Linked DNA regions of Homo sapiens: region 1 is linked to region 2. The links come from fine-mapping of genetic effects on gene expression. A gene starts in region 2. The other region holds a variant in brackets. All regions are shown on one strand. Distances are between the middles of the regions.

Region 1 (2,850 bases), 24 kb before region 2:
TCGCCCTCTTCCACGTGCATGCGGAACTTCTTCACCTTCTCAAACAGGGCTTTGGCTTGCTCACCCTCCTTCTTGTCCAACAGGGTGACAACTGGAGGCTCGGTCACCACCTTCTCCGGTTCCGCCAGCACTTTCTCCTTCTCACCCTCCCCTGCCTTCCCCGGCCCGGTCCCTGCCATGGCCACTATGGTGGCCGCAGCCCGTTCGGTGGCTGCTGGGCCCTTCTGGTTCTCCCCGGAGACCTCGGATAGGGCCCTGGTGGTCCATGGAGAGTCGAAACACTTGCCCAGGATGGAGATGAAGTGTTCAATCTTGGAGCTGGTGCCAGGGAACTTGAACCAGAAACTGGTGCAGACCATGAAGATGAGTGTGTGAATGACCACGAGGTAAGGGAAGTACTTGGCATACCAGTGCAGGGCCGTCTCATAACACAGCTGGTTAATAAAGCTGTATTGCTGCAGGTCCAAATTGTTCTTAAGGCCTTTAACCTCCTGCAGGGCCCCAATCTGCTCAGGGATCCCCCGAGGCAGCAATTGCTGGCACGGGGCCTCTGATAAGTTCTCCTGGAGCTCATGATTGGGTAGACAGATGATCTTGTCCTGTGTCACCTGAGGAGCAAAAGAGAATGAGGGCTGTAATCCTAGCACTTTGGGAGGCCAAGGCGAGTGGATCACTTTAGGTCAGGAGTTCGAGACCAGCCTGGCCAACGTGGTGAAACCCTGTCTCTACTAAAAATACAAAATTAGCCGGGCATGGTGGTGGGCACCTGTAATCCCAGCTACTCGGGAGGCTGAGGCAGGAGAATCGCTTGAACCCGGAAGATGGAGGTTGCAGTGAGCCGAGATCGCGCCATTGTACTCCAGCCTGGGTGACAGAGTGAGCCTCTGTCTCAAAAATAAATTAATTTAAAAAAGAGAGAAAATGAGGGGGATGGGGAAAAAGCAGGCTGAAGGTGGGAGACCCCCCGCACCCCCCATCTCTGACTGTTGCCAGCCAGCTGTGATTTTGGAAGAGTTTTGCTAAACCTCTAAGCACTGTTTTTTTTTTTTTTGGTTTTTTTTTTTGAGACAAGAGTCTCGCTCTGTCAGGCTGTGTGCAGTGGTGCAATCTTGGCTCATTGCAACCTTCCCCTCCTGGTTCAAGCAATTCTCCTGCCTCAGCCTGCTGAGTAGCCGGGGCTACAAGCACGCACTACCACGCCTAGCTAATTTTTGTATTTTTAGTAGAGATGGGGTTTCACCATGTTGGCCAGGCTGCTCTCGAACTCCTGGCCTCAAGTGATCCCCTGCCTCAGCTTCCCAAAGTGCTGGGATTACAGGAATGAGCCACCACAACTGACAAAGCACTGGTCTTTGTCTGAGAAAAGGAGCTGGGTTGAATCGTGTCCCCACAAAAGATGTTGAAGTCCCAACTCCGAATCCTTAGAATGTGGTATTATTTGAGCTGGGTCAGGCGGCTCCTGTTTGGTAATAGGGTCTTTGCAGAGGTAGTCAAGACAAAGCCAGTAGGGTGGGCCCAGTATGACTGCGCCTTAGAGAAAGGGGAAACATAGACACAGAGACAGACACAAAGACAGAAGATGACGTGAGGATACAGGGAGAGGCTGGGTGCGGTGGCTCAGGCTTGTAATCCCAGTGATT[T/C]GGGAGGCAGTGGGAGGGGGGGCCAAGCGGGGGTGGTAGAGGAGGATTGCTTGAGGCCAGGAGTACAAGGTTACAGTGAGCTATTATTGCGCCACTGCACTCCAGCCTAGGTGACAGAGCTTGCTTAAAAAAAAAAAAAAAAAACTGTCTCGACCAGGCGCAGTGGCTCATGCCTGTAATCCCAGCACTTTGGGAGACAGAGGCAGGCTGATCCTGATCACGAGGTCAGGAGTTCAAGACCAGCCTGGCCAACATACTGAAACCACGTCTCTACTAAAAATACAAAAAAATATTAGCCGGGCGTGGTGGCACACGCCTGTAATCCCAGCTACTTGGGAGGCTAAGCCAGGAGAATTGTTGGAACCCGGGAGGCGGAGGTTGCAGTGAGCCGAGATCGCACCACTGCATGCCAGCCTGGGCGACAGAGGGAGACTCTGTCTAAAAAAAAAAGAAAAAGAAAAAGAAAAATACTGGGAGAATGTCATCTACAAGCCAAGGAACTCTTGGAGCTGCAAAAATCTAGGAGGGAAGCTTGGAAGATTCTCCCTCACTGACAACTGACGCCTTGATCTCAGACTTCTGGCCTCCAGAACCAGACCCAGAAGAGGAAACATTTCTGGTTATTTAAGCCACTCAATCCCTGCTACTTTGTTACAACAGAAGTAACAAACTCATATAGCAACTGCAGTCCTTTCCAGATTCTAGGGATAAAACTGAGCATTGTGAAAATATGGGGCTGGACACAGTGGCTCACACCTGTAATCCCAGCACTTTGGGAGGCCGAGGTGGGAGGATGGCTTGAGGCCCGGAGTCCGAGACAAGCCTGGGCAACATAGCAAGACCCCTGTGTCAACAAGAAATTTAAAAATTAGCTGGACGTGGTGGTGTGTGCCTGTAATCCCAGCTACTCTGGAGGCTGAGGCGGGAAGATCACTTGAGTCCAGGAGTTCAAGGCTGCAGTGAGCTGTGATCATGCCACTGCACTCCAACCTGGATGACAGAATGAGACCGTGTTTCTTTATTTTAATTTTCAATTATTTTATTTTATTTTTTTTAAGATGGAGTCTCGTTCTGTCACCCAGGCTGGAGTGCAGTGGCATGATCTCGGCTCACTGCAACCTCCACCTCCCAGGTTCAAGCAATTTTCCTGCCTCAGCCTTCCAAGTAGCTGGGATTACAGGTGTCCACCACCATGCCTGGCTAATATTTG
Region 2 (2,900 bases):
ATGGCCATTTCCACCCTCAGGCTCCCACCCTCTTCATGCCACAGTCCTGGAGCACCGCTCTCCACCGAGGCCCCTGCCCTGGCTGAAGTCAGCAACAGGACACCTCCCACTCGCTCCGGCTGGGCTGGGACCCTTGTAAAGGATCTTCTGCGTCCTTCATGAACTTGTGTTTTTGTTTTTTTGTTTGTTTTTGTTTTTGAGACAGAGTCTCACTCTGTCGCCCAGGCTGAAGTGCAGTGGCGCAATCTCGGCTCACTGTAACCTCCGCCTCCCGGGTTCAAGCGATTCTCCTGCCTCAGCCTCTCGAGTAGCTGGGATTACAGGTGCTCGCCAGCATGCCCGGCTAATTTTTGTATTTTTTGGTAGAGACAGGGTTTCGCCATGTTGGCCAGACTGGTCTCGAACTCCTGAGCTCAAGTGATCCGCCCGCCTCAGCCTCCCAAAGCAGTGGGATTACAGGTGTGAGCCACCGCGCCCGGCCTTATGCACTTGTTTTGACACCTGCTAGGTCGACAGAACCTTGTCCCCCGGAAGCCCAGCTCTGCCAGGAAGTCTGGGCTGACTTGACATCCCGTTAGCTGGGAGGGTGTGGAGGGTGGGCGTGCTCTACCCTGCAGACGGCTGGGTCACCTCTCACAGAATATACTGTGTCTCCTGTCGCTCTCCCTCCTATTCCTTTCTTTATCTTCCCCAAAATCTGGGGTCTACCTTGCATCCTGAAATTCCCAGGGCAGCATTCTCTTAGCAGTCCCTCGACCCCCCAACCAGATAAGGGGTTTCCTGGCGTCTGGGGAACACCTTCGGGTGTGGGGCGGAGGGCGGCTGCCCCCCAGAGACCCTGGGCGGCCTAGCTTTCGCAGACGCGAAGGACTGGATAGTGCCAGGGCCACCGAGCGGCCGGATTGGTGTGTGGGCCAGAGGCGCGGTGGTCCCGCCTCCTGGTTGCCAGGGCCCAGCCTATCCGCGTCCAGGCGGTCCTTGGTGCCAGGTGGTTGTGGTGGGGGTCGGGGCAGGTGTATGTGTTGGGAAGGACAGTGGAGGACCCCAGGGATTTGCTCCCCCAGTCCCAACCGTTGACTATCTGGGTTCCTCAGGCGCAGCTGGGGAAACAGGCTTCCCCCGGACCGCAGAGAAGCCACCCTTCTCTCCAAAGCGCGCTTCTCCCCCATCCCCCTCGGCGCGCTTCCGCCGGCCGCGCTCCCGGGTCCGGATCGAGCGCGCGCCCCCGGCTCTCCCGCCCGCGGCCGAGGGGCGGGACCGGCTCGGCTCCCCCGGCGCCGCAGCCCGCAGCCCCCTCCCCTCGCCTCCTCGCCGCTGGCGGCCACCGCGTCGCTCCGGCCCGGGCCCCACCCCAGGCGACTCTGTGAGGAGCGGCCGGAGGCCGGAGGCGGAGGTGAGCGCGACGCGAGCAGGTGGAGAGGCTGGGCGCGGGCCAGGCCCGGCTGGGGGAGGGGTCGGGCCCGGGACGCGGCTCTTTGTCTCCCGGAGCCCGTTCGCGGGCAGCGGGGCCGCTCTGCCTCCCGGCAGGTGCAGGCATCCCTCGGGGAGGCCAGGGGAGGCCGATGGGGGCTGGCGGGGAGACCCGGGCGTGCGCTCCGGGTCTGGAGGGATGCGACATCCTGAGCCCGTGGCAGTCCCCCGCTCTCGAGGCTGGCGGTCTGAGTCCCTGAAGGGGCAAGGGGCAGGGGCGTGGAGATCGGTCCTGAATTGGAGCCGAGGCGGGGGAGGCGGTGGGCTGGGGCGGGCAGGGCCTCTTCGCTTTAGGGAAAAGCGGTGGGGGGTGGGACTTGGGGACAGCGAGGAGCAGTGGGGCTGGCGAGTGGGTGTAGGTGCGTGGGAGCCGAGCGGATGGAAGCCGAGGCCGAGGTTTGAGTGTCCATGGGTGGCGATGCTGCGAAAGGGCAGTGAGGTAGCAGGGTCCAGGTCTCTGGAGGCGGCGTAGCTGTCCAGAACCTGGGATGCGGACCGGTTTGTCTCTTCAGGTGCAAGATGGACAACAAGAGAGACAAGGCGAAGGCAGGGGCCGCCGCGCGGACGCCGGCTGCTCGCGCTCCTGGACTTCTGACCCCCAGGCCCCCAGGCTCTCCTCGACCCCCTCCCCCAGTAACTCCCGCAGCCCTCCGAGTTCTGGGAGCTGCGGGAGCAGTGGGGCGAAAGCCTCTGGCAGAGCGAGCGGGGGGCATCGGCGGGGCCACTATTCCCGAGTCTGCTCCCCGAGCGGGACCAACGCGGAGTGCTGGGACAAGTTCCCGAAACCCTGGTACCCCAGCCTCCTTCCTCAGCTCCGCCCCCATCTTCCCTCCCCCTTCCAATACCTGTCCAGTCTCACCTCCACTGCCACCTCTCCGGGGCACCTGTGACTCGGCCTTCTCCCCGCAGCCTCCAGGCCCCCAGCCTCTGGGAGAGGGGAGAGAGCTCCTCCTGCCAAGAACACCAGCCCAGGCCCTGTTTCTAGCCCAGGGCGTGCCAGCGGGACCACCAGGTAACCTGCTCCCTCTCCCCCAGTCTCCTAAGCCAGGGTTAGCGTCACAGAGTCTGGAACCTTTTATTTTACACGAGTTGGGGCGCGGGAGCACTTGCAGGTCACTGGGCACAAATTGGGTGAAAGCCATTATTGGTCCTCAGAGAGGGCACATGCCCATTTCACAGATGGGAAAATAGAGACTTGGGAAGCCAAACAAAGACCTAGGCCTGAGCGTGGCCCCTTCTGTCTCCAGGCCAGGCCCTCTTGGCCAGAAGGGACTCCGGATCTCAGCGGAGGAAACTGTGGCCAGAGGAAAAGCTACAGAGGCTCCCAAAAGGAGTGCCCTCAGCGCTGGGGCACGGAGAGGTACGTGACCTGGAGAAGAGTGGGGTTCCTGGGCAGCAAGGGGAGCCGCCTCAGAGGTATCGGTGACCCT

Evidence for each region. PIP is the estimated chance that this variant, and not a neighbour inherited with it, causes the effect.
Region 1: its variant is the best candidate, but not a certain one, in a credible set for the expression of PRR36 in nasal epithelium (TOPMed, PIP 0.52).

What each region holds. Positions count from the first base shown.
Region 1 is chr19:7,896,419-7,899,268 of GRCh38, reverse strand. It overlaps LRRC8E (leucine rich repeat containing 8 VRAC subunit E), which reads right to left. Exons shown (of 3, transcript NM_025061.6): 3 at 1-608. Among named protein-coding and RNA genes, the nearest start is that of MAP2K7, 6.0 kb to the left of the region's middle. The variant T/C (reference allele first, on the strand shown) is at 1,641.
Region 2 is chr19:7,872,779-7,875,678 of GRCh38, reverse strand. PRR36 (proline rich 36) reads left to right here and starts at 1,289. Exons shown (of 6, transcript NM_001190467.2): 1 at 1,289-1,393; 2 at 1,983-2,260; 3 at 2,380-2,482; 4 at 2,718-2,830. The coding sequence starts at 1,990. RefSeq lists an enhancer at 1,571-2,087.